Linked DNA regions of Homo sapiens: regions 2, 3, 4, 5 and 6 are each reported to be linked to region 1. The links are microRNA targets in miRTarBase. Many come from high-throughput screens and were not tested one by one. Region 1 holds a microRNA gene; each other region holds the end of a gene's coding sequence.
Evidence for each region. The annotated mature microRNA hsa-miR-499a-5p reads UUAAGACUUGCAGUGAUGUUU and lies in region 1 at 2,714-2,734, opposite strand. An mRNA with a match to its seed (bases 2 to 7 or 8) in the 3' UTR can be bound and repressed. Matches are read on the target gene's strand: a 7mer-m8 pairs with bases 2 to 8, a 7mer-A1 pairs with bases 2 to 7 and ends in A, and an 8mer does both.

Region 1 (5,223 bases):
GGTGTCATCCGGGATGGCACTGGGGTTCAGGATACGGTACCTGGGAAAGGAGGGCAGAGCTGGTCAGGAGAGGGCTGGGTATGGGGCACAGGCCACTGAGAATGGGGAAGTCAGGGACTGAGGAGGCTCGTGTGGGTAGCAGGGGACTCGTTCCTGGGCCTCTCCGAGGCTGGTGCAGAGGTTCCAGCAGGGCACATGCCAAACAAGGGGGCCAGGGATGCGTCACCACACTGGGACACTAGGGACACTCCACTTAAAATCCCTGGGGGGTTGGCTGGGTGCGGTGGCTCACGCCCATAATCACAACACTTTGGGAAGCCAAGGCGGGTGGATTGCTTGAGCCCAGGAGTTCAAGACCAGCGTGGGCAACATGGTGAAACCCTATCTCTACTAAAAACACAAAAATTAGTGGGGCATGGTGGCGGGCGCCTGTAATCCCAGCTACTCGGGAGGCTGAGGCAGAAGAATTGCAGAATCGCTTGAACCTCAGAAGGCAGAGGTTGCAGTGAGCCAAGATCCTGCCACTGCACTCCAGCCTGGGTGACAGAGCAAGACTCCGTCTCAAAAAAAAAAAAAAAAACACAACCTTGGGGGGATTTTAAATGCATTCATTAAGTTTTTAAAGAGGCTTTTTACAGAAGGCATGCACTATTTTTAAAATTTTTTTAAAGGCAAAAAATATTAGTAGAAGGTGACATGCTGTACCCTATCACTGAAGAAACATTTGGGGGAAAATTCTTTTTTTTTTTTTTTTTTGAGACGGAGTCTCGCTCTGTCGCCCAGGCTGGAGTGCAGTGGCACGATCTCTGCTCACTGCAAGCTCTGCCTCCCGGGTTCAGGCCATTCTCCTGCCTCAGCCTCCCGAGTAGCTGGGACTACAGGCTCCCGCCACCACGCCCGGCTAATTTTTTTATATTTTTAGTAGAGATGGGGTTTCACCGTGTTAGCCAGGATGGTCTCGATCTCCTGACCTCGTGATCCGCCTGCCTCGGCCTCCCAAAGTGCTGGGATTACAGGCGTTAGCCACCGCGCCCAGCCCATTTGGGGGGAAATTCTAATGCAAAAGAGCCAGGGCTCCCAGCCTGCCCACTTCTAAGTGGACACATGCACAGGGCTGTGTGGGTCAGGTGGGCTACAGCCACGCTGTGAAGGCCCCTCATGAGGGGGACTCATTAAACAAAGCATGCAGTCCACCAGACTGTGAGATGTTTCACAGCCAAGAAAAACGGATGACGATGGCAGGCATACGCCTGGGGATAAGGAACGATCTCCAGGCCAGACTGTTAGAAAAAACAAGGTCACAGCACCATGCGTGTGTGTGCGTGTATGGTATCTGTGTGAACCTCTGTTTACAAAGGATAGTGTGGATGACACCATGACTTCTGGAGGGAGAAGGAACGATGGATGCTTGTTGCCCATTGAGGGAACGGGGAGGAGCTGGCAGCACTGCCCAGGTGCTTGCTATGTGCCAGGTGTCTCATGAAGCCTCGTCCACATGATTCTCGTTCAACTCCCAAATCTGCATCCTTTCTGCCCGCTGCCCTGAGCTCCAGATTGATAATCCCAATCTCCCCCATGACTTTTCTAGGATGTCTGCTGGAGGCATTTCAAACCTGATACACGCAAAACAGAGCTCAAACCAGTATCCCTTCACCTCTCCTCCAAATCAAAAAACCCTGTTTTTGTAGCTCAGTAAATCTACCACTGGTAGCTCCCAGGTTGCTCACTCCCAAAACTAGAAATCATTCGTCTTTTCTGCATCCAGAATTCCATGTCCAGCTTATCAGCGAGGCCTGTAGGCTCCACCTCCACTATTTGCCCCAAGCCTATTCACTTCTCCCCAAGTCCCCGGCCAGGTCTGAGCCACCCCCATGTCTTGCTGGGATACCTGGCCAGGCCCCTCACAGTCCCTGCTTCCCCCTCCAGACAGGGGACCGTCTGTTGGGCTCTGATATGTGTGTCCTGCCCAGCCCCTCAGGCCTCCACCTGGAGCAGCAGGCAGGGGGAAGGGGTCACCCACCGCTGCCGGAAGTCGGTGTAGAGCAACCTGTTGGGGAACCCTTGGCGGCAGATCCGGATCCCCTCCAGGACCCCATTGCAGCGCAGCTGGTGTAGCACCAAGAAGGCATCCATGACCCCTGGACGTGAGAGGGGAAAAGGTCAGAGGTCAACAGGCACACCCGCAGGCCCCAGAGAAAAAGCAGCAGTGGAGACCCTGCGAGGTGAGGGGGAAGATGTACTCAGCCTCCCGGCCTCTGCCCTGTCACCTTCCCATGATGCCTCCCGGCCCCAGCCAGGCCAGCCCTGGGTGACTACCTGGGGTTTTGTTCTCGTTGGGGACAATGCAGCGGACGAAGTGGGGCTGTGTGGCCCGCAGGTTGGTCATCAGCTTGTTGAGGTTCTCCTGGCAGTGGGGAAGAGTGAGGGAAAGGCACAAAGGGGGCAGAGAACCAGAATTGGATGCCGCAGTGGTCAGGACCGAGACGGGAGCAGGGCCCTAAGTGCCCTGCACTTTTGCTCTTTCACTCTCATTCTGGTGATGGGAGACCCTTCGCTGTCTCCCATCACCACCACCAAAGTCTTCACTTCCCTGCCAAATCCCCGTCCCTCCCAGAGCCCCAGGGCTCCCACCCCTTCCCCACAAACCCTGCCCAGGCAGCGTAGGGACGGGAAGCAGCACAGACTTGCTGTGATGTTCACGTGGAGAGGAGTTAAACATCACTGCAAGTCTTAACAGCCGCCCGCCCAAGGCACAGGGGACAGGGCAGGGGGTGAAGGACGGGGCTGGAGGCTGCCAAGAGGGAGGGTCTGTCTCCCAGATGGGGCCTTACCTTGTGCAGCTGGGACACCGTCTGGAACGATGCTGCCTTCTTACGCTTCTCTTTCACCCCAGACTTGGGGGGCTCAGCTAATAGAGACAAGGGGCCTGGTCACTCCAGGGAATGTCGCTCTGTGGGCCCCTGTCAGAGTGGAGATCTTGTCCCTCCATACTCACTGGAGCAGGAGCCCGCATAATTCTCATAGAGAGTCGCCAGGAGCCTATTCTGTGACTTCTGGAAGATGGGGACCACGGTCTCATTCAGGGGATCCTTGTTTTTCTCCAGCCAGCCCACAATGCTGTAAGGCACCTGGAGAGACAAGTCAGGTGCTGAGCCCGGGTGGGAGACCTGGAGCAGGGCGGGAGGAGCCTGGCCGAGGGCTGGGGTTCCAGCAAGCACCTACCACGCCTGCGTAGTGGACCACCTCGAAGTGGGCCTGGTACTTGCGCTTCTTGTCAGGCCGAGGCTGCTGGAAATTGGGTGACTTCCCCGCGTGGTTGTCGTAGAGCTTGGCCCGGAAGCTGGCGTCTGAGGCCTTGGGGAACATGCATTCCTCCTCCAGGATGGACAGGATGCCCAGTGGCTGGGAACAGAACGAGCTTGAAAAGCCACCATCAAGCCAGTCCATCCTGGAAGGACTGAACCCCTGGTTCCCCAGGCCACCTCCCTTCTGGGAGCCTTCCCAGATCCCCAGCTTCAGCCATCTCCCCGGATGGTCAGACACCACACCCACTCCAAGAACCCATCTCCTAACAGAGAAAAGTTTGTGGCTTGGCTCCAGTCCCCTCCTGCAAAATCTGCAGCACTGAGGTGTCATCTTCACTTCTAACAATGGCAAACCCAAGCTGGCATCTCTGTACCCACTCTCACCCCCGCCACAGCCATGGCTGTCACACACAAACATGGGGTAAGTCAAAAAAAGCCATCAAGTTCACATTTTGGCTTCCTCACTCACTAGCTGTGGGGCCCTCCGACATCACTAAGCCTCAGTCTTCTAACCTGCAGAGTGGGAAGATGAATGTCTTCAGTGCTGACATAATATTTAAAAAGCTGTCAATCACCTAAACGCCCAGCTGTAGGGGACTGCAGAAATGCATCGTATGAAACTCATCCACTGCATGAACTACTCTTGCCATGAGCAGCATTCAAAATACATTTTCAGAGAAAAAGTAGGATATGAAATGAAATCTGTGTCTATAAAAGAAAATGGATAGGCCAGGCGCAGTGGCCCACGCCTGTAATCCCAGCACTTTAGGAGGCCAAGGTGGGTAGATCACTTGAGGTCAGGAGTTCGAGACCAGCCTGGCCAAAATGGTGAAGCCATGTCTCTATTAAAAATACAAAAATTAGCTAGGTGTGGTGGCGCATGCCTGTAATCCCAGCTACTTGGGAGGTTGAGGCATAAGAATTGCTTGAACCCTGGAGGCGAAGGTTGCAGTGAGCTGAGATGGTGCCATTGTACTCCAGCCTGGGCGACAGAGTGAGACTCCATCTCAAAAAAAAAAAAAAAAAAAAAGGGATAAAGGATTTCGAGGAAATGAACCTAAGTGTCATGTGACTGGCTGTGATAGGAATGGGGAGAAACATTTTTTCCCCTGCCAATTTTTCAAATTTTCTTTCTTCCATTCTTTGTACAATGGGTAAATATACATAATGTTCCACAATCACAAAAACAAGGAAACACACCCTGCCCTGCACCCAGGGCAGTTCTAGGGATCCAGTGAAATTGTGGCTGCAAATAGGGCCTTGTGAGCTGCAGAATTCTGAGCACCCAGGAGGAGCTGTTGTCCACAGTACTGGGATGCATGCATTCACACTGCTCACACACTCACCAAGGCTCACTCATGGTCAACTCCAACACACCCACTCACACACGTGCCCTTTCACACACAAGCACATAAACGCTGTCACAACTACACTCACATGCATGCTTACTGCAACGCACAGTCACACGCTTCCATGCACACTTGCAGGCTTCCATGCAAGCCATGGTCATCCATCCCTGCTTGCTCACCACACACACCCTCCCTTCCTCAAAGTGACCTTGCCGCGGCACCCACCTTCTCGATGAGGTCGATGCAAGGCTGCAGGTCAAGGCCGAAGTCGATGAAGACCCAGTCGATGCCCTCCCGCTTGTACTCCTCCTGCTCCAGCACAAACATGTGCTGGTTGAAGAACTGCTGCAATTTCTCATTGGTGAAGTTGATGCACAGCTGTTCGAAGCTGTTGAACTACAAGAGGGAGGGGCCTGGCTCAGCAGACCTCTCGCAGATGGGGAAAGGGAGGCCCGGGGAGGGGCATGAGTTCACCCCCAACTTCCAGGCAGAAGGCCAGGGCTTCTGCCCCCCCACAGGCCCATGTCCTCTACCTTGGAGAGAACAGAGGCCAAGGTGAGGGCCTGTCC
Region 2 (5,223 bases), not on the chromosome of region 1:
ATGTGAGACATTCTGTAAGACAACTGGCTTCCAATGTTATGAAAAAACTGAATTATATTCCCACATACCAGAAATGACATTTCCAAAAAAGATATTTATAATGGCATCCAAATATATGATGTACCTAGGAATATATGTAACAAAAGATTTACAAGACCTTCTTGGTGATTAATAAAATTTTATTAAGACATTAAAAGGACTTAGCAATATATCATGTTCATGGATTGAAAGGCCCACTATGATATAAATTCTCCCAAAATAGCTTATAGATTCATCGCAACTCCAATCAAATTTTCAATGTGTTCGGCTTTTTTTAGTGAAACGTGATAAGCTATTTCTAAAATATATAAAGAAGAGCAGAGAACCAAGAAGAGCCACAAGCTGTTGATGAATAACAAGGATGTGAAAGGACTTTGATATTATATATCAAAAATTTTTTTGAAGATCATGAAGTAATGAAGAGAGTGTACATTAGCACAGGAAAAAAACCAATATAATAAAGAGCCCATAAAAGATCTTTGCATATATTGACAATATACAACAGAAAAGGCACTTCAAAGCAATAGGAAAAGGAAGGTTTTTTGTTTTTGTTTTTTTTCAATAAACAGTGCTGGCACAACAGACTAGCCCTATAGCAGCAAAAAAATTACCTCATACTATATGTTGAAGATTGTTCCAAGTGGGATGAAACCAAAATGTGAGAGGCAAAACTACAAAGCATGTAACAAGAGAATATTAACTATATTTTTAACATAACCATAAAAAAAACCGAGCTAACCATAAAGGAAAACTATTATTTGAAGATATTAAAATTAAAATGTTACTATATTTATAAACATTGTGAAAAGACAAACCACAAAGTGGGAAAAGATTCTGCAACACAACTCATAAAGGAGTAGTAGCCAGAATATATAAAGAACCACCTGCAAATTCATGAGAAAAATGGGAGAACTTTAACACACTTCATTCACCAAAGATGAAATCCAAATGGTCAAAAAATATATGAAATGTGATCAGCCTCATGAACACCTTTCATATTTTTTTTCCATATAAGGAAAATGGTCATTTAAACTACAATATGATACCATTATACATCTACCAGACTGGGGGGCTGGGGAAAAGCCAATACACCCTGGGAAGAATGTAAATCAGTATGAGAATCTTCGGGAAACAGTTGGCATGATCTAGGTTCCACTCTTATGTATATGTCCTTTTAAAGATGCAAACTCCAGAAGACATGTTCAAAATATCCATAGAAGCACTGTTTGAAATATCCCCAAAGTGGAAAAAATCCAAATTGTCCATCAAGAGTAAAATGAAAAAAGTATATGTAATGTAATACATTCATACAATGGAATAAACACACTATGGCTACATACAATGATAAGGATGAATCTCATAATGCTTAGCAAAAGAAACCAGTCTCAAAAGTGTACAGTATAATTTGATTCATATAAATTCCAAAAATAGAAACTAAATATGGTCTTTAGAGACATATACATGGGTGGTAAAACTATGAAGAAAAGCAAAGCAAAGAGTAGGGATGATGTTAAAGTGGACAGAGGGTTGTGTTAGGGAGGGACATATATGGAGCTTTTGAGGTACTGGAGATGTTCTATTTCTTGACCCGGTGGTCATATGGTATGCACATTATGATATGTTAAAAAATATATATGTATGTGTGTACATATCTGTTGTGGACATGCATACATATGTTTCATGTACTTTGTCCATATTCCACAATAAGAAAATATACAAATGACCAGTAAATATGAAAAGACATTCAATCTCACTAGTAATTAGAAAAATAAAATAACCATGATCAGCTATCATGATTTGCTGAAAATGTAAAAGACTGATAATATCCCTCTTTGCTGAGGTTGCAAAGAAATAGGCATTCTCATATGCTGTCAAAGGAAAGTAAATTAATAACTCTTTTTGAAGAACAATGTGGCAATATGTATAAAAACATAAAGCTTGTCTTAAAAGTTTTCAATTGCAATTCCAAATATCTATCCTAATGAAATTCACATGCACTAAAGATATGTGTACAAAGATGTCTGCCATTCACTACAGCATTGTTTGCAGTAGTGAAAAAAATGAATAAATATCAATAAGGGAAGATTTATGAAAAGTATTATAACCCATACAATGAAATACTATGCAGCCATTAAAAATAAAACTTTATAAACTGACATGGAAAGATATCCAAAACACATTAAGTGAACAAAAGCAAGACACAGAATAACACACACATAACATAATCCTGTTTCTAAAATATAAATATGTACATATATTTCTATAGAGTTATGAAAAACAGACTACATATTCATGCTGTAACCTGTTAGCAGTGATTACCTCTGGGCCAGGAAGTGGTGGAGGTAGAAGGAGGGTAAGCGGGACACTTTCCCATCTCACTCTAGATACATACATAGGATTCTTTTGTAATCACATATCCATGGACTACTTATATATTTCTAACAAGTGGTAGTAGCAAAACAACTGTATTATTATTTGTTCCACTCCCATGAGACCAATCTAATACATTTGAAAATAACTTGCTTTCAAAGCTAATTCTTTTGTTCCTGGAGGGCCTCCAGGGAGCCTACAGTTGCAGTCACAGGGCTGTCAGCCATCAATCGAGGAGCACTGTGCAGGATACTAAGTAACTTGGTCTGTCTCCAGGCTCGCCTCTTGAAAATATTTGCATACATTCTCATATCCCAGCTTACTGGCAGTAGCAATAATGTCTTCCCAGAGCACTTTGGTAAGGTAAATAAATTCTGATACTGCACATCAAATCACATCCATATCAAAGTGTAGATGTGGCTGTCAAGATCTATGTTTAGATCCAAATTAGTAATCACGCCCTTGATGAGTGACTTTTAGAACAGTTTGCATTTGGATTCCAAAGTAAGAACCTAGACCCCACTAAATCACCATATAGAGCTTTTCTTCTCTTTCTTCTTCCCTCCCTTCACTCTGCGCTAGCCCTTTCTAAAACTAATTTTTCTGTTTTCTATAAAGGTGGAAGAAAGGGCGAACCCGATCATGAGTTATTTGCAATCAGTAGTCAATCAGAACAAAAAGTATTATCAGTATATTTACAAAGAAAAATCCAACTACATGTATACATTTTGGTGTGCATTTTATTTTTGACTGGAATCATATCCATATGAAGGGAAATTGTGAAAGTATCCTTTACTCTTTTGAAAGCTTGGCCTTTGCCTTACTGTGTCAAAGGAAAGCAAAACTAAGCCAGTAATGATGGAGATGTCCCTGTTTCCATATGCACACTGACAGGCGAGGAGCTGCCTAGGAAATGCTTTTTGATTGATGAACAGAGGAGGGTCTACACACATTAAATACAAATGGAAACACATCAGCACACACAAGTCATTAGCCTGGTCCTCTGGCATCCACTGGCATGCATCTTTCCAAAGTATCACTTATTCAGTGGTAGCAGCACTATGTCTCGTTATGCCTTTTATCAGCAAATACCTTTTTATTCCAGAATGGAAAACAAACTAGGAATTAAATACATCCAATATTGATGCTTTATTTCCATAAGTCACCAATAAGAGAATGAATTTAATTTTAATACATTTATTTTTGTGTGATTCTTAATAAAACACTTTCAAAACATTCTGTACATTTCAAGCCACTCAGAACCGCATTACATTTCTACAAATGTGATTTGTTGGGATGAGGTGCCAAGATGTCTCTGTACAAAGATGTACAATATGTACAATCACTGTAAGTGCAAGCTGTGCAAAGCAGAGTCTAGAACACTAATTCATGCCAAGGCTTACAAAAACATTTCAACACATAAGACTAAAGCTTGAAACAGCGTTGTGGTTTTTTCCCTGGGCAAATGATTATTTTATAAACAAGTATATGTATATGTCATACAGAAAGAAGAGTTTGACTCCTCAGCTCAGTCAGTACCATGCAGCTGACTGGATACATTACAGGGCTGCTCTCCTAGGCCTCTTTCTTCAAGGCGCCATTTTGCCACACTCAACAGTTGTCTCATCACTGAGTGGCTGCCACTGCTGCCTTTGGCTGAACCACAGCAACACTAGGAGACTTAAATTTCGGGAGATAAAGGCCAAATTTGTTTTCGATGCCTGCAAACGTGGCTGTGGCGAGTCTGTATCCACCGATGTGATCAGGGTTGGCAGGAGGAAGGTCTGCAATGCGTGACTTAGGTGTTGGTTCTGAACCAGCGGGTTTGCTGTTGACAGAAAAAAAGCCAATGGTTAGCATGCTCAAGGTGGATGAGCGCAGCTTACAGCTGGACATTTTCGGTCTGACCCATGTGCCACAAAGAAGAATGTTTCTCTCAACCATTTCCATGGCATCTGTGCTGCATGACTAGAAACCACAGTCATGATTTATAGCTGCTTTGACAGCAACTTATCTACATATTTGATTTACAAGAGAAATGGCCTTATTTCCAATGCTTGCATACATATATAAACAAATCCATAGGAAAAAAGTCAGAAGAAAAGACACTCAAATATGAAGACTCTCTGGGTAGTAAGATTATGGATGATTTTTTTCTTTTTTCTTCTTGTAAAGATGGGGTCTTGCTATGTTGCCAAAGCTGGTTTCGAACTTCTGGTCTAAGGAATCCTTCTGCCTTGGCCTCCCAGAGCACTGGGAGGTGTGAGCCACCACACCCAGGCTGGTTTTTTTCTTTTATGCTTTATGGTTTTCCAAATTTTCTGCACTTAGCACATATGAAAGTAATTTTTAAAGTATATATTTTTCTTTTGACATAACTTTAGAAGTTAACTTTTTATGTAGTAGACTCATAAAGATTATCAATTAAATTATTTAAAGAGAGATAGGCCGGGCATGGTGGCTCACGCCTGTAATCCCAGAACTTTGGGAGGCCGAGGCAGGCGGATCATGAGGTCAGGAGATCAAGGCTATCCTGGCTAACACGGTGAGACCCCGTCTCTACTAAAAATATTAAAAAAAAAAAAAATTAGCCAGGCGCGGTGGTGGGCGCCCTTAGTCCCAGCTTCTCAGGAGGCTGAGGCAGGAGAATCACTTGAACCTGGGAGGTGGAGGTTGCAGTGAGCCGAGATCGTACCACTGCACTCCAGCCTGGGCGACAGAGCAAGACTCCGTCTAAAAAAAAAAAAAAAAAAAAAAGAGAGAGAGAGAAATAGCTTTAGTTCTTTTACAGAAGATGAAAGAAGCATGGAAAAG
Region 3 (5,223 bases), not on the chromosome of region 1:
TGCCCCTCCAGAACTCGATCCGCCACAACCTGTCCCTGCACAGCAAGTTCATCAAGGTTCACAACGAGGCCACCGGCAAAAGCTCTTGGTGGATGCTGAACCCTGAGGGAGGCAAGAGCGGCAAAGCCCCCCGCCGCCGGGCCGCCTCCATGGATAGCAGCAGCAAGCTGCTCCGGGGCCGCAGTAAAGCCCCCAAGAAGAAACCATCTGTGCTGCCAGCTCCACCCGAAGGTGCCACTCCAACGAGCCCTGTCGGCCACTTTGCCAAGTGGTCAGGCAGCCCTTGCTCTCGAAACCGTGAAGAAGCCGATATGTGGACCACCTTCCGTCCACGAAGCAGTTCAAATGCCAGCAGTGTCAGCACCCGGCTGTCCCCCTTGAGGCCAGAGTCTGAGGTGCTGGCGGAGGAAATACCAGCTTCAGTCAGCAGTTATGCAGGGGGTGTCCCTCCCACCCTCAATGAAGGTCTAGAGCTGTTAGATGGGCTCAATCTCACCTCTTCCCATTCCCTGCTATCTCGGAGTGGTCTCTCTGGCTTCTCTTTGCAGCATCCTGGGGTTACCGGCCCCTTACACACCTACAGCAGCTCCCTTTTCAGCCCAGCAGAGGGGCCCCTGTCAGCAGGAGAAGGGTGCTTCTCCAGCTCCCAGGCTCTGGAGGCCCTGCTCACCTCTGATACGCCACCACCCCCTGCTGACGTCCTCATGACCCAGGTAGATCCCATTCTGTCCCAGGCTCCGACTCTTCTGTTGCTGGGGGGGCTTCCTTCCTCCAGTAAGCTGGCCACGGGCGTCGGCCTGTGTCCCAAGCCCCTAGAGGCTCCAGGCCCCAGCAGTCTGGTTCCCACCCTTTCTATGATAGCACCACCTCCAGTCATGGCAAGTGCCCCCATCCCCAAGGCTCTGGGGACTCCTGTGCTCACACCCCCTACTGAAGCTGCAAGCCAAGACAGAATGCCTCAGGATCTAGATCTTGATATGTATATGGAGAACCTGGAGTGTGACATGGATAACATCATCAGTGACCTCATGGATGAGGGCGAGGGACTGGACTTCAACTTTGAGCCAGGTACAGTACCCCCTAATCACCACAGCACCTCATAGCCTATTACCACTCCTAGGTGCCCAGCTAGTCCCATGATCTGGGCGAAGGGGAGATTTAGGACAAGTGGTAGCCAGAGCTCCTGGGGAACTGGAGGGAAGATGTCATATTACAGTAGCATAGTTTCCGGATGGGACCTCCAGGCCCCTTAGCTGTGCCCAGCCCTGCAAGGTAGCACAGAAAAGGTATGTGTATGGAAGCGGGTTAGGTGCCACCATCTTCTTTGGTGGGAATCTGGATGATAGAATGTTGGCAAGCCCCAGGTAAGCCTCTTACCTTGTTCTCTGTTTCTTCTTCCCACAGATCCCTGAGTCATGCCTGGAAGCTTTGTCCCCTGCTTCAGATGTGGAGCCAGGCGTGTTCATATCTACTCTTTACCCTTGAGCCCTCCCCAGGAATTTGGGACCCTGCTTTAGAGCTAGGGTGGGGTCTGGTCACACACAGGTGTTGAAGAAATTATAAAGATAAAGCTGCCCCATCTGGGGACGATATGGGGAGGGAGATGGGAGGGGAAAGGGGAGAGGGTTTTTCTCACTGTGCCAATTAGGGGGTAAGGCCCCCTCTCAGGAGCCATCATCGGCTTTCCCCATTCCTACCCACTTAGGCTTTGTAGCAAGATGAGCAATGCTGTTGGAAATGTGAAGTCACCAGTGGCCTTACCCCTGCCTTTGGGAGCAGGATTTTTTTGTAGAGAGTCTTATCTGAGCTGAGCCAGGCTAGCTGGAGCCTGGGATTTCTATGCAGTGGCCCCTTAGGCCAGTGATGTGCGGTGGGTGGGCTGTTTAGGGGATCTGGAAGGGCCAAGGTCTGAGCACTGGAGTGGCTCGCCAGGCCAAATCACCCTTAGAAGGCTGCAGATAACAGAAAGGCTTTTTATAAACTTTTAAAGAAATATAAACACAAATATAGAGATTTTTTAACCATGGCAGGGTGCTAGTGGTGGGCAGAATGCTTTTTTTTCTTTCTGAAGGCTTTGTGATAGTGACATGATACAAACACTACAGACAATAAATATTAGGAGACACAGGGAAGTGGGGAGAGGTGGGGAGTAATAGTAAACACAGGGAAGAGCTCCCCTACGGACCAGGTATAGAGAAAGGTCTATGCAGAAATAGGTTAGAGTTTCCCTAACAAAAAAGCTAACCCAGGTCCCCTCATTCCTTCAACTTGTGCCTGGGAGTGTGTGGTGTTAGGGTGCAGCCACACTCTTCTATGACCCAGCATGGGTTAGTGCTATGGTGGGAGAGTACATTGAAGGCCTGGAATTAGCTTGGGGCCAGGGAAGGGACTGGGAGGGGAGAGAAGAGAAGGAGGGAAGGATTTAGGATGGTAAAGTTAGGTACAGAGACCTCCCTGTTCAAGGCCCCTGACAGCTGTCCCTGCCCTTCTTCCCCTTCCCTGACTGCAGGGGTTATGTGGAAGTGTGTGTGGCAGCAGGCAGCGGGGAGGGGAGGAACAGGGAAGGGGGAGCTGGGGAGCTTGGCTGAGGGTCTGGGAAATGAGCAGGGATGGGGGGGGATGTGGATCAGGTTTACTAGCACCTGCCAGGGAGGCCATCTGGGGCTCCTTCTCCACCCCAGCCCCCAAAGCAGCCCTTCCCCCAGTGCCCTTTGCATCGTCCCCTCCCCCACCCCTGCTGTGGGTTCCCATCATTTCCTGTGTCAGCGCCTGGCCTACCCAGATTGTATCATGTGCTAGATTGGAGTGGGGAAGTGTGTCAAATCAATAAATGAATAAATTCAATAAATGCCTATAACCAGCTCTGGTTTCTGCTGCCTTGCTTCTCCCCTTGGATAAGGGGGAGGGAGGGGAAAAGGCAAAGGGCGGGAGGAAGAAACTGCCCAAAGGCAGAGACATGGAGGAGGGTGGGGGAATTTCACCCCGGGGAGGTGGTGGAGTGTGGGGGTGGAGGGACACCTAACCCCTGCAGGAGTAGGCGGGCTGTGAGATAGGCCTCCCAAGGGGAGGTAGTCTGGTTTGAGAAGACCCCACCCCCTACTCCGTTCCTCAAAGGCTCATTGTACTAGACTTCACAGCCTTCCTCACCCCCACCCATGTGCTTGCCCCAGCCCTCTCCTGCCGCTCCCATCCACCCTCAGAGCCTCCTAGGTGCCTGGGGCGTATGTACTCAAGCCTTAGTGCAGATATTGGGAGAAGGAGTCTTTCTAGAAAAAGAAATCTCACGTTAAATTCCAGTAATTTCACACCTAGTATTACTTCTTTTGCTTGGTGGTTTTATTGAGTTGGCGACCTTTATTCTTCCTGAAGTCTGGTCTGTTCCTAAAGGTCGGAGACTTGCGAGTGGACTTCTTTTTGTCTGATCGTCCTGATTGCTTGGACTAGAAAAAGAAAGTAAGTAAACAAAGAGGCCCCTGCAGGGAAGGTTTCTACAACCCAGGGCCAAAGGAAGGAAAAAAGAAATTGGAGGCAGGAAATTCATCTCAGAGGGCTGGGGTGTAGGAACATTCAGTCGGCTGGTAGGGAGAGGGGGGTGCTGGGGCAGATCACATTTGGCAAGTCTTACCGGGACACTCGCAGGGGGTTCAATTATAACGACCTTCTTGGCTTCTTTCATTTTAAGCATCTGAATTCGTCTCCTCTCCAGGGCATCACATTGTATGCGCAGTGCAACTAAGAACAAGGAAAAGGCACCTGCACCTCTGAGAACTAGAGACCTTACCCTTCCTGATGCTCCCATTCATTGTTCAAACCATCAGCTGGAGCCCCACTTGGCCTAAGATGGAAATGATGGAATGGTGACAGGGAGATATACGGAGAAGATGGCCAAGAAATGGGGGAAGTGGGGAGTAACGCATGCACATTCCACCTGGTGTGAGCTAAACGTCCCTCCTAAAGTGGACCTGGACCCTGCCCGCCTTTTCCTAGGCTCCTATCATCTGACCTACCATATCACGCTAGTCCCACCCTACATTCTCCATCACACAGCTATATACTGTACCCTTCATGTTCTTCCCTCCCCCATCTCACTTCTTACCAAGCAGCCAAGGCTCCGGATTCTTGAGGAGAGGCACAAAAGCTCTGTAAGCATTCTCCAGCCTGGTTCCTGTGAACATAGCCATGTGCTATCTCCAGCCCCTGTCATCCAGTCTCCACCCTTCAGAAGTCCAAGATTCCAGGACCTAACACTAAAGACTACCCGCCAGATGCGGTGGCTCACGCCTGTAATCCCAGCATTTTGGGAGGCCAAGGTGGGCGGATCACTTGAGGTCAGGAGTTCCAGACTAGCCTGGCCAATTCGAGACTAGCCTGGCCAATTTGGTGAAACCCCATCTCTACCAAAAATACAAACAAACAAAAAAAATTAGCTGGGCATGGTGGTGGGCGCCTGTAATCCCAGCTACTCCGGAGGCTGAGGCAGGAGAATCACTTGAACCCAGGAGGCAGAGGTTGCAGTGAGCCAAGATCATGCCACTGTTTCAGCCTGGGTGACAGAGCAAGACTCCATCACAAAAAATAAAATAAATAAATAAATAAAAATAAAGACTACCTTGCCGGGCACAGTGGCTCACGCCTGTAATCCCAGCACTTTGGGAGGCTGAGGTGGGTGGATCACCTGAGGTCAGGAGTTCAAGACCAGCTTGGCCAACATGGTGAAACCCCATCTGCACTAAAAAATTAGTTGGGCCTGGTGGCGGGTGCCTGTAGTCCCAGCTACTCAGGAGGCTAAGACAGGAGAATCGCTTGAACCTGGGAGGCAGAGGTTGCAGTGAGCTGAGATCGCGCCATTGCACTCCAGCCTGGACAACTGGACAACAAGAGCGAAACTCTGTCCCAAAAAAAAAAAAAAAAAAACCTACCTTGAGCTGGTGGATATTTCTTCCCCTTAGGTATGGACCTAGGGGAGAGTATGTGTGAGGTAACCTATTATTATAGAGGCAGTACCCTTCCTTAGGCTGACTAGAGATGGTCAATTTGGATCTGGTTGAGGGTGTTCTGTTGTTTGAGGGTGTTCTGTTTTTTGTTTTAATTTGGTTTTGGTTGTTTTTGGTTTTGGTTTTGGTTTTGGAGGCAGGCTCTTGTTATGTTGCCCAGGCTGGTCTCAAACTCCTGCCCTCTATCGATTCTCCCGCCTTGGCCTCTCAAAGTGCTGAGATTACAAGC
Region 4 (5,223 bases), not on the chromosome of region 1:
AACCCGACCTCAGGTGATCTGCCCGCCTTGGCCTCCCAAAGTGCTGGGATTACAGGCGTGAGCCACCGTACCCGGCCTCTTAAGAGCTTTTTGAAGAAGATAACCCACTACTTCATTTGTTCCACGCCACTCCTACCAAAACCCCTTTGTCAGTTTTAAAGCAAACATCTGTAGGTTTCTGAGAGTAGAAAATCTACTTAACCAGAGATGATAAACATGTTGAAAATCTGCCTAACCAGAGTTGCTAAAAATATTTCTTGGAAATGAAATCTTGACTTTGCAGCATCATTCATATTGGAACCACTTGATATTAGTTTCCGGTTTTCATTTTCTCTGTTTTAACTTGCCTGGTACCAAATAGTATGAGTCATTAGCCATCCTCCCATAATGTTTATGGTATTTAGTAGTGTTTTCAAACAAATGTGGCATCAACGTGGTAAACATTTTAATAACTAGATGATACGAAAGCAGTTTCATGTAAGCCATCAGATGATCTACCTGCTTCAGGTATTCTGGTTACCACTCTTCTATTTGAAGTGTTCCAAAGACAATAGTATATTCTAAGAACTTGCATAGTAATTTCCTTTTGGAAGCTAAATGATGGGGATACCAGAGCTCATATGAAAGTATTCAAAGTAGGTTGAGGCACTACCAGATTCTGTGTATATATTGCCACATTTTTTTTAAAGCAAACAGAAGGTTTGTAATCAGGTTACAAGCCAACCAACAGATGACCTGTTTCTGTCTTTCGCTGTTATAAACCCGTACTGTCAGCTTAGATTTGGAAGTTTATCTCTCATAATGGATCAACAACTATATTTCTACCATCGATAGAATGGTAGGCTATCCCTATGACTTAGGGTGCTAAACAAAGGTCAAATTCAGTATCTATTAAAAGACGACAAAAACCAAAAACTTTCATTCCAGTTAAGTAAGGTGAACACATTATCTCCTAGTTCTCCCTCTTCATTGATTTCCCTTTCAATATATTTTAGCTAAAAGATTTTATACTCTAAGGAAAACAGTGAGGCAACATAGTAAATCTGTATAAGATATTTTATTTGGAGATTGAGTTGAGAGGCTATTCATTTTTAGGCTGAGATAATAAGTAAAAGCCCCATTCATCCAAGTGCCAACCTGAAGTAATAGTGGACTCCTGAGGGGCAGTGGGGGTGGTAGGGTCTGTCTGCTTTTCATTCCATTGCTAGAACCCCTGTCTGCACCTGCCATTTATTTACAAAGCATTGCCAGGCTCCGGATTTAGAGTGACTGAAACACAGATTCTGTCCTCTGGAGCTTAGGGGGCCTCTGTTGTAACCTGTTACCAAGTTTGGTTTTAGTAACATTGGCAATAGATTTTTCAAAAAGCTAACCAGCAATAAGAACATCCAGTGCTCACTATAATTTTTCAAAATAAAGACAACTTTCACCATTCAGAGTTTTGTGGTTTGCCTCTTGGAATGTTTGAGGAATACCACAAATCCCTACTTAATGACAAAGTCATAAAAATCACATCATGAATAGCATTTCTAATTTGTGCCCAACCACACACAAACACTAACGTATAATTATAGTTGAGATCATTCATATCAGACAACGGTCACACCAAGCTGGTCTTTCTTCACCACTAACTTTCAGAATAAAGCATACACATATTTTCCTTCTCCTGAAGACCACTAAAGCATATCCTTTGAGAGCACCTATAGTGTTGCATAAGTACTTTTTGCTTTTAAGATCAAAATAATCAAAATAATCAAAATACAGGAGTCAGTTTTGCAAAAATAAGTTATAGTTCCAATTGCTCAGTGTTTAAAAGCAAAAAAGCAAGCAAACAAAAAACCCAAACAACAAAAAACCTTTTCCATTGAGTAAGAAAAATCTATGGGCTCTGGGAGGAAGTTGGAGTCCTTAGTGGCTCAGGCTCAGGGTTATCAAGAATTGTCCTCTGGCTTGAGGGACAGTTTAGTCCTCTTAAAGAGTAGCACAGGACTTGGCTCCAACAAATCTCTGTAAACTGAAGTCTGCTACACCCAGGCCCCGATGGCCCTTGGTTTTGTTCCTTCATCATGAGCCTTCTTCTCAGGTCACCCATTCATACCGCTTAAAGATCTCACACAAATAGCAATTGGTGATGTCTTCAACAATAACCTCATCTTGTGGGCCAACAGAGAAATCATTCACAGCGTTCCTTGAAGGTATTGACATGATGCAAATATCTTTATTCGTACAAATAACATTCAAGCATATCATTCAGTGTTGCAATAAGTTAAGATAAGCTCCTTTCAGAGATGCTGGGAAAGGCTGGCTTTTGCCTCCAAAACATTGCTCCCTAATTTTGGCTCCTTCTATACATTTCCACTAAAAGCCTTGCCCGGAGCAAGAAGGAAGCTTACCCTGCCCACCCCTCATTGCCCCTGGCTCCTGTTCCCCTTTCCAATGCTAGCAGTAGGGCAAGAGGGAGGTTTATTTTCAACGTGAAACTTAACTGTATATTTAATTCCTTCTACCAAAGCCTGCATTAAGGCTAATGCATTACAAAACATACATACCCGCAAACTGTTGAGATAGTGAGCATTGTTTTAAGCTATTCATCTCTTTGTCAAAAAAATATACATAGCCTGAAACCATCACTAAAGTAGCAGATTTTACTTTTTTTAATTTGAATTTTCCAAATTCTGTTGGTCTTACCCTTCAAGTTTATTTGTGCCACATGTACATAAACTAACCTACTTTCTCAATATTTTGCAATTTGTGAAAAAATAAAGCCTGTTGCAGGCATGAACAAAGTGGCAGGGAGGTTCCAGCCTGAGAGTCTGGAATCCTTTTGTGGTGAAGACTCCTAAACTGTCAGCAGGAATCACACTCCTTTTCTTCCTTTTAATAACAGACCCAATTCCCTCTCTACCTCTCTGTATTCACTGGCTACATGGCTGCCTAGTTAGGGACTATCTTTAGCTAGCTGTGTCCACATGACTCAGTTTTGGCCAATACAATGTAAGTGGAAGTTAAAGTGATGCGTATAACTGAAAAGGCTTGCCCTGGACTTCTTCGTCATCCTCTTCCTCATCTGGCTGGGGGGAATCAGTACAAGGACAGAGCCAACTGACCCACCTGGAAACTCTTTACCTTGTGGATCTGCTCACCGTTGAGCTGAATTTGAGAAAAACAAACTTCTACCCCTTGTTTTAGACACCAGGGTTTTGTATCTTTTCCTTACAGCAGCTTGCTCTCTACTTTAACCAGTACAGCAAGAAATGTATTCTCTCCTAACAAACCCGACCAAGAATCTTCCCCTACCCACTAAATGACTTTGATTTATTAAGACAACTTAAAAGCCAAATTAATGGAATTAAGTAACATTTATTTTACATAAAACAATTTCCAGAGAATACATTTAAAAACCATCTAGATACTGATTTTTTAGCATTACAAAAAATTGAGAGGCACAATTGAAGTATTCAAATAAATTGTGAGGGGTGGAGGTGGGGACTATGCTCACTATCTATGTTGTTCCTTAGTCACTTAAAGGCTCTGCGTGCAAGAGTCTTTACATGAGGCAGTAGTGCACTTTCATTTAGTAGGAATAAATCACATAAAATATATACTTTTATACAGAAAGTGTTATTGTGTTGTCATTTTCAATTACTTATAAAAACTTCATTTGAATTGCACAAAAGTTCTCTTTAAAATTGATAACTCCCAGAAGACAGGGCTTAGAACTGTCTAAATAATTCATTACAAATAATTAGGTTTCCATTTATCCATAGATTAAAAAAACTATGAAGAATTACGTTATTCAAGTGGGACATTTAAAATTTTTTTCATAGGAAAATAGGTTTACATGTTTGTCCCTAGTCAGCTAAATTTCCCACCCCCCAACTTTAAAACAGATCACAGGATGTCCAAAGTTTTAAATCAGAGTACCTATATCACAGTACAGTGTGGATATGTTTCCATTAATTCATTTTATGTCTCATTCTATTATAGTATCAAATTAGCAAAAAGGCACCTGGGTACATTCTTCAGAACAGTTTTGGTCGTTTTAAAAAAATCACACATTTATAAGCAGTGATTTCAATCATGTTTAAAAACAAAAATATTAAACAAATTCATTTCCTAATCCAGATGATACAGAATCCAAGAAATTTCTGTAGGCACTTCACTTTCCATAGAACTTCTTGTTCAGCAGGTATATGAGAAGGTTTACATTCACTTTAACCTTATCAAACATTTTCATTACAGCTACTCCTTCATATTGCATCTGAAGTAAATCCTGAAATTGTAAAAAGCATCATTAAATCTCAACTTTGACATTTTGTGCATTTAAAAAACATATTAGAAGAATTTGTTGACAAAAGTCAGATTCAATTGACCTAATCACCTGGGTGGGGTCTAACTATGTTGCCCAGGTTGGTCTCAAACTCCTGGCTTAAGCTATCTTCCCACCTCAGCCTCCCGAGTAGCCAGGACTACAGGCGCATGCCATGGCACCAGGCCATAGATGGGGGTTCTAAAACTTAAGTGTACATCAGAATCATCTGGTTAAAAACATAGGCTAGTTAAAATAAAGGCTGCCTGGGCTCCTCCCACAGGAATTTCTTGTTATGTAGCTCTCTGGTGGGGCCCATCAATTTGCATTTTAATAAATTCCCAAGTGATTGTGACTTAGATGAAAGAAAATAGCTTTTTGGAATTGATAAGGGCTGTATGAAAGTAAATGATGATCATTAAGTTAATGTCAGATATATAATTTCAATTTTTAATCGAAAATGTTAAAACACAAAGTTCTGGCTAGATGCATATTCTTTAGAAAGCAGTGTTTTCTGGCTGGGTGTGGTGGCTCATTCCTGTAATACCAGCAGTTTGAGAGGCTGAGGCAGGTGGATCACTTGAGGTCAGGAGAGTGAGACCAGCCTGGCCAACATGGCGAAACCCCATCTCTACTAAAAATACAAAAATTAGCTGGGCGTGGTGGTGCACACTTGTAATCCCAGCTACTCAGGAGGCTGAGGCAGGAAAATCACTTGAACAGAGTAGGCAGAGATTGCAGCGAGCCGAGATTGCACTGCTGTACTCCAGCCTCAGCGACAGAGAAAGACTCTGTCTCAAAAAACCCGAAAAACAAAAACAAAAACAAAAACAAAAACAAAAACACAGAAAGCAGTGTTTTTTTAAAGTGAAGTGAGCAAGACATTCACTGGGGAAGCAAAAAGAATATTAGAA
Region 5 (5,223 bases), not on the chromosome of region 1:
AGGCGCCCGCCACCACGCCCGGCCAATTTTTTTGTATTTTTAGTAGAGATGGGGTTTCACCATGTTATCCGGAATAGTCTCGATCTCCTGACCCCGTGATCTGCCTGCCTCGGCCTCCCAAAGTGCTGGGATTACAGGCGTGAGCCACCGCACCCCGCCGAGATTCATTCTTAAGTGCACCAAATTTTGAGAAATATTGATCCAGGTGCAAGGCTGCCAGGTCAGGCCAGTATCCCCTCAGTGGGGTTGGGTTTGGAAGTCATCTTAGTGGAGGGGTGGAAACACAATTGTGCCTATCTTCCCCAGCCATGCAGGGATCTGCCTTCCTGTGGAATGATCTCCAATGATCTTCAAGTATCTCCTGCAGACCCAGTTCTCTTGCTAAATAAGTGAGTTTAATGGACAGAAAATGATCTTCCTGTGATGGGGGTGGGGCTCAGGAACCTGGAGGGAAGGCATGAAAAGTGGTCCACAGTGTGTGGGAGCTGGGGTTGGGGTGTCGAGTGAAATCTCCTGATTTTCCTGAGAGAACCGCATTTCAGCTTGGGTCGCAGAGGCAGCTTGGTGTGGACACCTATCTTCTAATTGCTATGTGACGGGGATCAAGGTAGGACAGAGTGGGTTTTTTTCATCCATTCAACAAATACGTATTGAGTGTCCAAGCAATGAACAAGACAGACCCAGTCCCAGAAAGCTTGAGACTCAGTCTATGGGCAAGAGAAACCTTAAACAAAAACAGACATAGTCAATTAATGCATTTATCATAGCTGGGGTGAAGGGCAGGAAGCAGTGGAGGATAGCTTAAGGACACATTTGAGGGGACCTGCACTATTTAGGGTGTCAACTTCTCTGAAGAAACGAAGTTTAAACTTTGGGCTGAAGTACACAGTGGCCGTTGAGGGGAGGAGGAAGAGTGTTCACGGAAGAAAGGAAGAGGCATTCAACATATATTTATGGAGCACCTAATATGTGCCAGGTAGTTCTTGTTCTGGACATCCAGAGAGGAACAAAACAGTCCTCCCCTCTTGGAGTTCCAAATGTGCAAAGCTTAGGGATGGGAGGGTGCCTGGCCTGCCTGACAGTGTTGGAGGAACTGAAAAATTGGCGTGGCTGCAGCACAGAGGTGAGGAGTGTGGGGAGAGGCAGTGGGTGGGACCTGAGCATGCAGTGCCTGCCGGTCACATTTGGGAAGTTAGACTCTAATGGTTTGGGATTCTCTGGGAGGCCTTTTGGCCAATCCCAGCCAAGCCCTTCTGGGTTGAAGAGACTCAACCTCAGCAGCCTGAGGCTACTTAGGATTGCCTTATTAAAAAAAAGGCCAGGAGCAGTGGCTCATGCCTGTAATCCTAGCACTTTGGGAGGCCAAAGCAGGAGGATTGCTTGAAGCCAGGAGTTCAAGACTAGCCTGGGCAACAGAGAGAGACCTCGTCTCTACAAAATATTTTAAAAAGCTGGGCATGGTGGCGTGGGCCTATAGTCCCAGCTACTCGGAAGGCTGAGGCAGGAGGCTTGCCTGAGCCCAGGAGTTCAAGGTTACAGTGAGCTCTGATTGTGCCACTGTACTCCAGTATGGGAGACAGAGCCATCAAAAAAAAAAAAAAAAGAGAGAGAGAGAGATTTTTCTCAAACTTCCACCCAGTCACCACCCTGAGATGCGCGACATCAAAAAAAAGTTAAGACTCCTAGAATGTCAGGGTATGAAGGCCCCTAAGAAAACATGGAGTCCAACCTCTTTATTGTATAGATGGGAAGACCGAGGCCTAAAGAGGGTGATGATTCTCTCAGGGTTGGACCCTGTTGATACCATCATATCCCCTCTGCCTACCTGTCCACCCTACAGGTCACTGGAAGATAATTCCTGGACACACCTTGGACAGCTCCCCACATTTCTCTATTTGGAGCTTTGGGGTGGTAGGAAATTGATGCCCTCAGAAAGGACACCCCCAACCAGCAAGAAACCAGAGTTGGTGGAAAACATCATTTCTTCACTCTCGATGGGACAACCTGAAGGCATGTTCTAGTCAATACTCCTTCTCACAGGTCCCCAACAAGAGTTAGAGACAGAGTCTCGCTCTGTTGTTCAGGCTGGAGTGCAGTGGCGCCATCATGGCTCACTGCAGCCTTGAACTCCTGGGCTCAAGCAATTCTCCCACCCGAGTAGCTGGAGTATAGGTTCTCACCAACACGCACAGCTCTTTATCTTTGACTTTCTGTTTCATTTCTCTATTCCCTCATTATGCTTCCTGGGATCATTTCACAGATAAGCTACTTGCTCCCAAATCCTTGTCTCAGGGGCAGTCAACAGAGACAGTGGCAGAGGACCATGGGAGAGCTAGAATTTCAGGTCTCCAGACTCCTAGTCCAGTGCTCTTTCCAGGGTTTCTCAACCTTGGCACTATTAACATTTTGGACTGGATAATGCATTGCTAGGGAGGGTTGACCTATGCACCGTAGGATGTTTAGTAGCATCCCTGACCTTTGTCCACTAAATGCCACTAGCATCCTCCAGTTGGGAACAGTCAAAACTGTTTTCTGCTTTATCAGAAGTTCCCCGGGGCAAAACACTGTGGTTGCAAACCACTATTCCACATCAGGCCATCTCCCTTGCCAGGTCCAGAGAAAGAATTTCAAGCCCCAAGATTCCTTTCCCCTCCCTGTTGCTCTTTAGATCACATAAATGAAACCACTGGAAACTGACCCCCCAATCCTTTATTAGAGATGAGTGAAATAACAAGTCTGAGATGAATGAAACCAGACACTGGGGGCTCAAAAGACAACCCTGTTCCTGTGGGAACCACAGACCAGTCAGGTCTCCAGGGGAAACAGCACAGCCTCCCCAGCCAGGCAGCTGTGTTGGCCATTGGTGCTCTCTAGTCTCCCCTGCTTGGCTTGGCCCATTCCTGCCAGGGCCCAGCACCCAGCAACTGGCAAGTTGAGATGTTAGTGGTTGATGATGGCTTAGGTGTATCTGCTTTCTCATTGGGGCTGAGCAATGATAGAATTTCTAGGGCTGGGAAGCAGAACCCTTAAGTCTCTGCCCTCCCAATTCTATTACTCTCCCTTCTTTCTTTGCCTCTCCATTCCCTCAGACTAAAAGGCTCCTGAGTTGACCAAGAGAAAGAGAAGAGAAGTGGGCATCCATCAACCCTGACTATTCCTTTCCTTCCTGCTAAATCAAGGACACAGGCAAATGTGGGTGCATCTGACTCTACAATTTGGCTGGGGAATATAGGAGAATGCCTAGGGAAGGCTGTGCTGTCCCTCAAAAGGAGTGACATTCAGAATATTTTTATTTAACAGCCAGTACAGCATGCATGTTGACCAGCCAGAATGGATGTGATCTGTAGACAATTGTAATGGTCATATAGGTATAAACCAGCTGAGTCCAGAGCCATGCCCTGGAATCTGACCCTGCCTATTCCCAAGCCCAACCCTTAAGACCAGCTTTCCACCAAAGGACCACCCCTGCAGGGCCCTTGTCTTACTCGTGTGGTATCTGAAGTGCCTAACACAGGTCCAGACATAGAGTTGGAATTTAGTGAAGGAATATTAGACTAATAAATGGCTGGCTGAGAAGACAGTCCCTACTTGGCAGGGTCCCTGATCTGGAAGTCAGTGATGGAGGGCTCTCCTGCCCTTGTGAAGCCCCCAGACTGACGGGGGAAATAGAGTCTCGATCTGATGAGGGACTGAGAGTTCTGCAGCTGAAGCCAGCTCAGGAGCACTCAGATCCAGCCACAGGGCTCCCAGGCCCCTAGCGGGTAATGAGATAGGAAAGAACCGCCATCAGTCCTAACAGGGAAAGGCCATGTGTCCTTGGTAGAGGCATGGCCTGTGGCAGGAAGAAGGCCAGCTACAGAGGCACAAGGGACAGAGAGAGTGAGATCCAAGAGAACAAATGTCTCAGCTCCCCAGTTTTGTGAGCTCAAGTCCCAGCTCTGAACATTGGGGCCTAGCATGGGGCATGTGGGGGCCAGCAAGGAGCTAGTCTTGCAAAAGTTGCACAGAACTTGCTGGGAGACTCCCAGTCCTTGAGCCATCTCCTTCAGTGATGCCAACCTGCAGAAAGAAGGATGAAACTGACATTTTCAAAGCACCTGTAACATACCAGGTGTTCATCTCACTCAGTTTCACATCTGTCCTATTGTAGATAAATTAAATTATTCTCATTTTACAGACAAAGAAACTGAGGCTTGAGGAAGTGAAGCCACTTATCCAAAGTCTCCTTACTCTAAAGCCCAAGCTCTTGCTATCATACACACCACAATCACAGGCATCAATTAAATGCCATCTGATGGATACTTGGTTTTCAGGGCAATAGTGGAACCAGAATATGGACATAGATTTGTGTCTGCTGACTAACTCTGGTGGACTAAAGATGACGATTCCCCAGACAGAACCAGCTTTTGCCCCTGCCATCCTGACTCCCAACACAACCAATGCCATTCTGAGGAATTCCCAGAGGAACAAGGGACAGAAGAGGCTTCTTTCCCAACACAACTGGCTCTGATCTGTGCCCACTCCTAGGTTCAACTAATATATGCCATTGTTGGAGACTTGGTGATTCAGCAGGGAGAAGCTGGATTAAGGATGACAGCTCTTGCCCTGTCCCTGTCACATCCCTCTATGCCTGGGATCTGAAAGTCCCTGTGGATTCCAGGAGACTCATGAACAAGGGGAGAGTTAGGCAAACAAGGGCTGGTACACGGCCACCTAATCCTGCCTCTTCTGCAGGGAAGTGATGCCTTCTCTGAGCGACTGGCCTGGCTAACACAACTTTCCTCATCCTCCCCTGGGGAGAAGCCAGAGCTTGGGCCTCATGATCACTGCCATCCCTCAAGGCCTGGGCTCTCCTCAGCTTCACCCAGCCCTGGGCTGGAGCATGGAAAGAGGAGCACCAGGACAGGGACTGGCCAAACTGCAGCCACCTGGGCACCAGGACAGGGACTGGCCAAACCGTGGCCACCTGGGCACCAGGACAGGGACTGGCCAAACCGTGCCCACCTGGGCACCAGGACAGGGACTGTCCAAACTGTGGCTGCCTGGGCCCATCTGTACCCCAACCATGGGGAGGTCTCCCACCCCAATACGCCTACTCTTGACTAACTCTGCCTCCCAGGCACCCTGCCACCGCCCCTCAAACCATGGTCCCAGAGTTCCTACCGGCACGTTCCTTCTGGGCAGAGGCTGCCTGGCTGAGGGACCATCTTCAGGGCTCCGCGC
Region 6 (5,223 bases), not on the chromosome of region 1:
CTGCACACGCACATACATACACTTTTGTAGCTGAAGAAATTGTGCTCCAAGAGAAACCTGTGTGTGATCATAAAATTTAATGAGTAACAAACACAGAACCAGAATCTAAGAGGCTTGAGTTCTAGGTTAGTGTTTTAGGGTACTCCATGCTGTTACGAGAGCTGGGTCTTTGGTGGTTTGCTTGCATGTGTCTTAAAAGTACCTTTCTCCACCCCTCTTCAGCAACTGTTTTTCTTTTTTCTTTCTAAAGATGACATCTTCTCCACTGGTATCCAGGCTAAGACAACCAAACCAAAAAGCCGATCTGCACAGGCCGCACCTGAACCAAGATTTGAACACAAGGTGTCCAACATCTTTGATGATCCCCTGAATGCCTTTGGAGGCCAGTAGAGCACACAGGGTATCCACATGTTACCCTGCAGCTACATTGTTGAGTTAGTGATGATATTGTATATGCTCATGGTCTTAACTGGATTACAAAAAGCAAATACTAGAACAGCTAGCTCATCTTTTACCCAATGTACTTAGTATTTTTCTGCACTGGTTTAATCATGCTTAATACTACAAAACAAAAATAAATATTTCACAGTGGTTGGTTTGTTTTGTTTTTAAACCACAGTTTGATTTAGTTAGCCTTGCTGGGGCCATAATATGCTTCAGGGTGTGTAAAAGAAGAAATCTCTTTGTGGCTTTCATGGGCAGGGAATCTCAGAGATAGCAAATGCCACCTGACCAGAAGTCTTTGTTATATGGATGGGAACCCTAACTTAGGGCTTGGGCAGGGGAAAGAGAAAGAAGATGAGAGATTATACTTCATGAGTCTTAGCAATATGGGAGCAGGTTTTCACTGAATTCTGAGGGTGCCTCTGCATGTCCTCCAAGGCAAAGTTTGGCAAACTGTGGCCCCCCCACTGTCATATTTTGTTAATAAAATTTTATTGGAACACAATCACATTCATTTGTTTACTTACTGTCTATTGCTGCTCTCACCCTACCTCCAATGTAAGAGTTGAGTGATTATGACAGAGACTGGATGGCTCACAGAGCCTCAGATGTTTTCTATCTGCCCCTTTATATACAGTTTGCTGACCATTGCTCTAAGGCATCCTTTTCCATCCTTGTCTTGTGGAAGCAGCAGAATGAACCTAGGTAATAGCCGGGGGAAGTGCTGAAGATGGAAATGTCAGCCTCTAGAGCAGCACTGCCCCATAGAACTCCACAGGAATGAAAATGTTCTTTATCTGTATCGACAAAGGCAGTAGCCACTAGCCACCTGGATGGCTGACCCCATTCTAATCTGTGTTTTTTGGTGCTCTGTCGTCTTGCTGCTGACTATGCAGCCTGTCACCACAGCACAGTCTTGTAGGCCGCCCAGGTTGGTCTCAGCGATCGTGGAGCTACTTACTTCTTCCTTGGGCACTGTAAGATCGGAAGGGGAATTACTCATACCCAGAGTCAAACATTTTGTACGGCTTCCACAGGTCAACCATTTGCCCAAGTCTGCTGTGAGAGTGACGTGATAACAGATAAGGGCACTTGCTAGTTGGCCACTCCTTTCCCCTATTCATTTTATGCATCTTCCTTCTGTCCTTAGGTTGAGATCTCCGAGTCGCTGTTGTCAGGCAGACTGCTGTCCTCCAGATTCAGGCCTGTGGGTCTGGGGAGCCCTGGTTGGTCTTGGAGGAGCAAGGGCTGCGCAGGTGACTTGGTGGCCTCAAGTGTATAGGTACCTGGATGGTGCGAGGAGATGCTGGCTCTGAAATATTTCCTAATCCCGCTTGCGGATCAACTGCCGACTAGCGTTTAGGTTACAGACATATTAGATGGTTGATGTGATTCTGTAGCTCGTATTTAGAACTTTAGGGATGTTTTCACATATCAGTAAATGAAGATCTATGTCAACATTTTTTTTTTTTTTTTGAGACGGAGTCTCGCTCTGTCACCCAGGCTGGAGTGCGGTGGCGTGATCCCGGCTCACTGCAACCACCGCCTCCTGGGTTCATGCCATTCTCCTGCCTCAGCCTCCCGAGTAGCTGGGACTACAGGCGCCCACCAGCACGCCCGGCTAATTTTTTGTATTTTTAGTAGAGACAGGTTTTCACCATGTTAGCCAGGATGGTCTTGATCTCCTGATCTTGTGATCTGCCCGCCTTGGCCTCCCAAGGTGCTGGGATTACAGGCGTGAGCCACTGCGCCCAGCCTATGTCAACATTTCTAATGGTAGCTTCACATTCTGGATATCTTTATGTTGGGGAAAAAGTTTTAAAGGTAACTGCTCTTCTGTAGCAAAGCTTTTTTAGAGCAGAGGATGGAGCAAATTCTGAGTTACTGAAATTACGTATTCAGTGCTATTGCCTTGTTTACCTTCCATTTCATCTTTGGAGTTGTGTTTTTAGAACTTTTTCAGAAGGGATGAGATAAATGCTTTGGGAATTTATTTAGAAATCTTTTTGGTGTCATTACTCTTAAGAGCTAGATATATTTTTTAATTGTAAAAAATTATGGAAATACTTTTTTCTCTACCTGCTCCCATTTTTTTTTTTTTTTTTAAAGACAGGGTCTGGTTGTGTTGCCTAGGCTGGGGTGCAGTGGCATAATCATAGCTTGCTGCACCTTTGAACTCCAGGGCTCCAGTGATCCTCCCACCTTAGCCTCCTGAATGGCTGGGACTACAGGTGTGTGCCATCATGCCCAGCTAATTTTTAAAAAAAAATTTTTGTAGAGACAAGGGTCTGTTGCCCAGGCTGGTCTCAACCTTCTTACCTCAAGTGATTCTCCCACCTTGGCCTCCTGAATTGCTGGAATTACAGGCATGAGCCACAATGGCCAGCTTCTTTCTGTTTTCTTTGTTTCCTCTTCCCCTTCTGTTTTCTTCCTTTTTTTTTTTTTAAGCTGTTCTCGCATCATTTTCCATCCCATCTTTAAGTCTTCATTGCCACCTCATTTTCCAAGATCATGAGTCCCACAGTATGCTCAGCTAAGCATGACCACACACCATTTCAAGAAGCCGTTCATGGACCCAGCTTTTATTACTGGCTGGGTCTTTGTTCTCCTGCTGCAGCTTCCATTTGCTCCTCAGCTACCCTCTAGGCATCCAGTCTGGCTTAACCAGATTTCATGGCCTCATTTTGTCCTCTGCTACAGTGATTTCTACTCCTGAGGAGAAGCATAACTATCTTCTAGAGGGAAACATTTTAGCTTTTGGTTATCAACCTTGGTTCTTTTGGGATATTGGAAATTACCCCATTGACTGGACCCAGACTTACGGTGGAAGTTCCAGCACAATTAATGCTGAACGGGGTTATGCTTTTTCTTCTGGCATATAGTTGAATTATCCATTCTCATTATAGGTGAAGGACTTCCAAATCTGTTTGTTATCTTCTACCCTCCCCCAGCCTATTATTTTCAGGGTCTCACTATGGAAGAACACTGTGGTGAAGGAAACAATCCATATTCCTTAGGCAGTTATAGTCACTCATGTCTTTATTTCTGTCATGTGCATTTTGCAGTCCTGACACCTGACTTCTGTTGCTAGAGCTGCACCTGTGTAGGTACGAGTACTGTTGGCTTCGGGGATACACACGCTGGCAACTCTATAGGACAGTCTTATTTGATATAGCATAAGTATGTTTTTAAGAATTCATGTTATCCAAAATTATAAAAGCAGTTGTTTGAATGAGTGAAAGAAAGGGGGTTAAGGTTAGAGAGCTCCATACAAAGTCATATATAAGCAATGCAGCTTTTTAATTTAGCTTTTATTTAAGAGCAATGACCCTTTACCACTATCACCAGCAGTATTATTAGCCTGGTACCTTGTATTACTCTTAATACCCATCATTTTGAAATATGGTGCAACGACACTCAAATGAGCTGCACTACAAGAAACAACTTTCCTTTCTGTAATGCCCTCCCTTTAGGATCACTAGAAGTCTGTACAATGCAATGCAGATTCCCGAATTAATGATCTTTCCTATTAGTGTAATTAAAAACTCATATTATAGCAGATTCCTGTATGTGCATGTATGTTATGAGTTGGATAAACGTTGGTGGACTTCATTTGGAGTGAATCAGAATGGGATTCCTGTGAGAAGCCAACATCCCTCTAAACAAACTTTTGGAGCATGATATGGCTTGGATGTTTTGTCCCCTCCAAATCTCATGTTGAAATGTGACCCCCAGTGTTGGAGGTGGGCCTAGTGGGAGGTGTTTGGATCATGGGGGTGGATCCTCATGAATGTCTTGGTGCTGTCCTTGTGGTAATGAATGAGTTCTCACTCTGAGTTCACATGAGATCTGGTTTAAAAGAACCTGGGGGCCGGGCACCGTGGCTCACACCTGTAATCTCAGCACTGCGGGAGGCCGAGGCTGGTGGATCACGAGGTCAGGAGATGGAGACCATCCTGGCCAACATCTAGAAACCCCATCTCTACTAAAAATACAAAAATTAGCCAGGTGTGGTGGCACGTATCTGTAGTCCCAGCTACTCGGGAGGCTGAGGCAAGAGAATTGCTTGAACCCAGGAGGCAGAGGTTGCAGTGAGCTGAGATCGTGCCACTGCATTCCAGCCTGGGCGACAAGAGGAAGACTCTGTCTCAAAACAAACAAACAAACAAAAAACAACCTCACACGTCCTTCCTCTCTCTCTCTCTTGTTCTCTCACCATGTAACATGCTGGCTCCTCTCCTCTACCATGATTGTAAACTTCCTGAGGCCCTCACTGGAAGCAGATAACAGCATTATACCCCTTGTACAGTCTACAGAACCATGAGCCAAAATAAACCTCTTTTGTTTATAAATTGCCCAGTGTCAGGTATTCCTTTATAGCAACACAAACAGCTAACACAGGATAACCAAATAGTTATTAATGTCTAAAACTTGGATAATACCTTACCTATAGCACAGGTTTATTCTGAGGATCAATTGAAAGACAAAAATATCTGTTCTTTCCTTGAACAAAGCTTTAATGAGTACCAATATGTGCAAAACACTGTGCTAGGTGGTAGAGATCAGATGTGCTCCCTTCAGTTTAGTAAAAAATGAAATTGTTAGGGACCGGGTGCGGTGGCTCATGCCTGTAATCCCAGCACTTTGGGAGGCTGAGGCGGGTGGATCACGAGGTCAGGAGATCGAGACCATCCTGGCTAACACAGTGAAGCCCTGTCTCTTAAAAATATAAAAAATTAGCCAGGCGTGGTGGCAGGTGCCTGTAGTCCCAGCTATTCA

Region 2: the mRNA of SLC25A12 is a reported target of hsa-miR-499a-5p. Seed matches in the 3' UTR shown: 7mer-m8 at 3,830-3,836.
Region 3: the mRNA of FOXO4 is a reported target of hsa-miR-499a-5p. Seed matches in the 3' UTR shown: 7mer-m8 at 1,795-1,801.
Region 4: miRTarBase lists IQGAP2 as a target of hsa-miR-499a-5p. The part of its 3' UTR that is shown has no 7-base or 8-base seed match.
Region 5: the mRNA of ASAP3 is a reported target of hsa-miR-499a-5p. Seed matches in the 3' UTR shown: 7mer-A1 at 3,435-3,441.
Region 6: miRTarBase lists WASHC2C as a target of hsa-miR-499a-5p. Seed matches in the 3' UTR shown: 7mer-A1 at 463-469 and 7mer-m8 at 819-825.

Annotation. Positions count from the first base shown.
Region 1 is chr20:34,987,919-34,993,141 of GRCh38, reverse strand. MIR499A (microRNA 499a) reads right to left here and starts at 2,766; the gene lies at 2,645-2,766. MYH7B (myosin heavy chain 7B) reads right to left here. Exons shown (of 45, transcript NM_020884.7): 19 at 4,880-5,050; 20 at 3,223-3,402; 21 at 2,996-3,128; 22 at 2,832-2,908; 23 at 2,317-2,404; 24 at 2,021-2,138; 25 at 1-40. It overlaps MIR499B (microRNA 499b), which reads left to right and starts at 2,670; the gene lies at 2,670-2,742.
Region 2 is chr2:171,781,239-171,786,461 of GRCh38, forward strand. It overlaps SLC25A12 (solute carrier family 25 member 12), which reads right to left. Exons shown (of 18, transcript NM_003705.5): 18 at 2,167-4,237. The coding sequence ends at 4,036. Among named protein-coding and RNA genes, the nearest start is that of DYNC1I2, 96 kb to the left of the region's middle.
Region 3 is chrX:71,100,673-71,105,895 of GRCh38, forward strand. FOXO4 (forkhead box O4) reads left to right here. Exons shown (of 3, transcript NM_005938.4): 2 at 12-1,068; 3 at 1,405-2,860. The coding sequence ends at 1,412. It overlaps CXorf65 (chromosome X open reading frame 65), which reads right to left. Exons shown (of 6, transcript NM_001025265.3): 4 at 4,097-4,165; 5 at 3,626-3,732; 6 at 3,217-3,440. The coding sequence ends at 3,315. Among named protein-coding and RNA genes, the nearest start is that of CXorf65, 3.5 kb to the right of the region's middle. RefSeq lists enhancers at 1-360, 647-696.
Region 4 is chr5:76,706,250-76,711,472 of GRCh38, reverse strand. It overlaps IQGAP2 (IQ motif containing GTPase activating protein 2), which reads right to left. Exons shown (of 36, transcript NM_006633.5): 36 at 3,341-4,273. The coding sequence ends at 4,160. Among named protein-coding and RNA genes, the nearest start is that of NCRUPAR, 3.5 kb to the left of the region's middle.
Region 5 is chr1:23,425,872-23,431,094 of GRCh38, forward strand. It overlaps ASAP3 (ArfGAP with SH3 domain, ankyrin repeat and PH domain 3), which reads right to left. Exons shown (of 25, transcript NM_017707.4): 24 at 5,164-5,223; 25 at 2,692-4,059. The coding sequence ends at 3,985. It overlaps LOC124903875 (a long non-coding RNA gene), which reads left to right. Exons shown (of 3, transcript XR_007065535.1): 2 at 307-389; 3 at 1,841-3,112. Among named protein-coding and RNA genes, the nearest start is that of TCEA3, 3.7 kb to the left of the region's middle.
Region 6 is chr10:45,792,011-45,797,233 of GRCh38, forward strand. WASHC2C (WASH complex subunit 2C) reads left to right here. Exons shown (of 31, transcript NM_001330074.2): 31 at 251-954. The coding sequence ends at 390. Among named protein-coding and RNA genes, the nearest start is that of AGAP4, 53 kb to the right of the region's middle.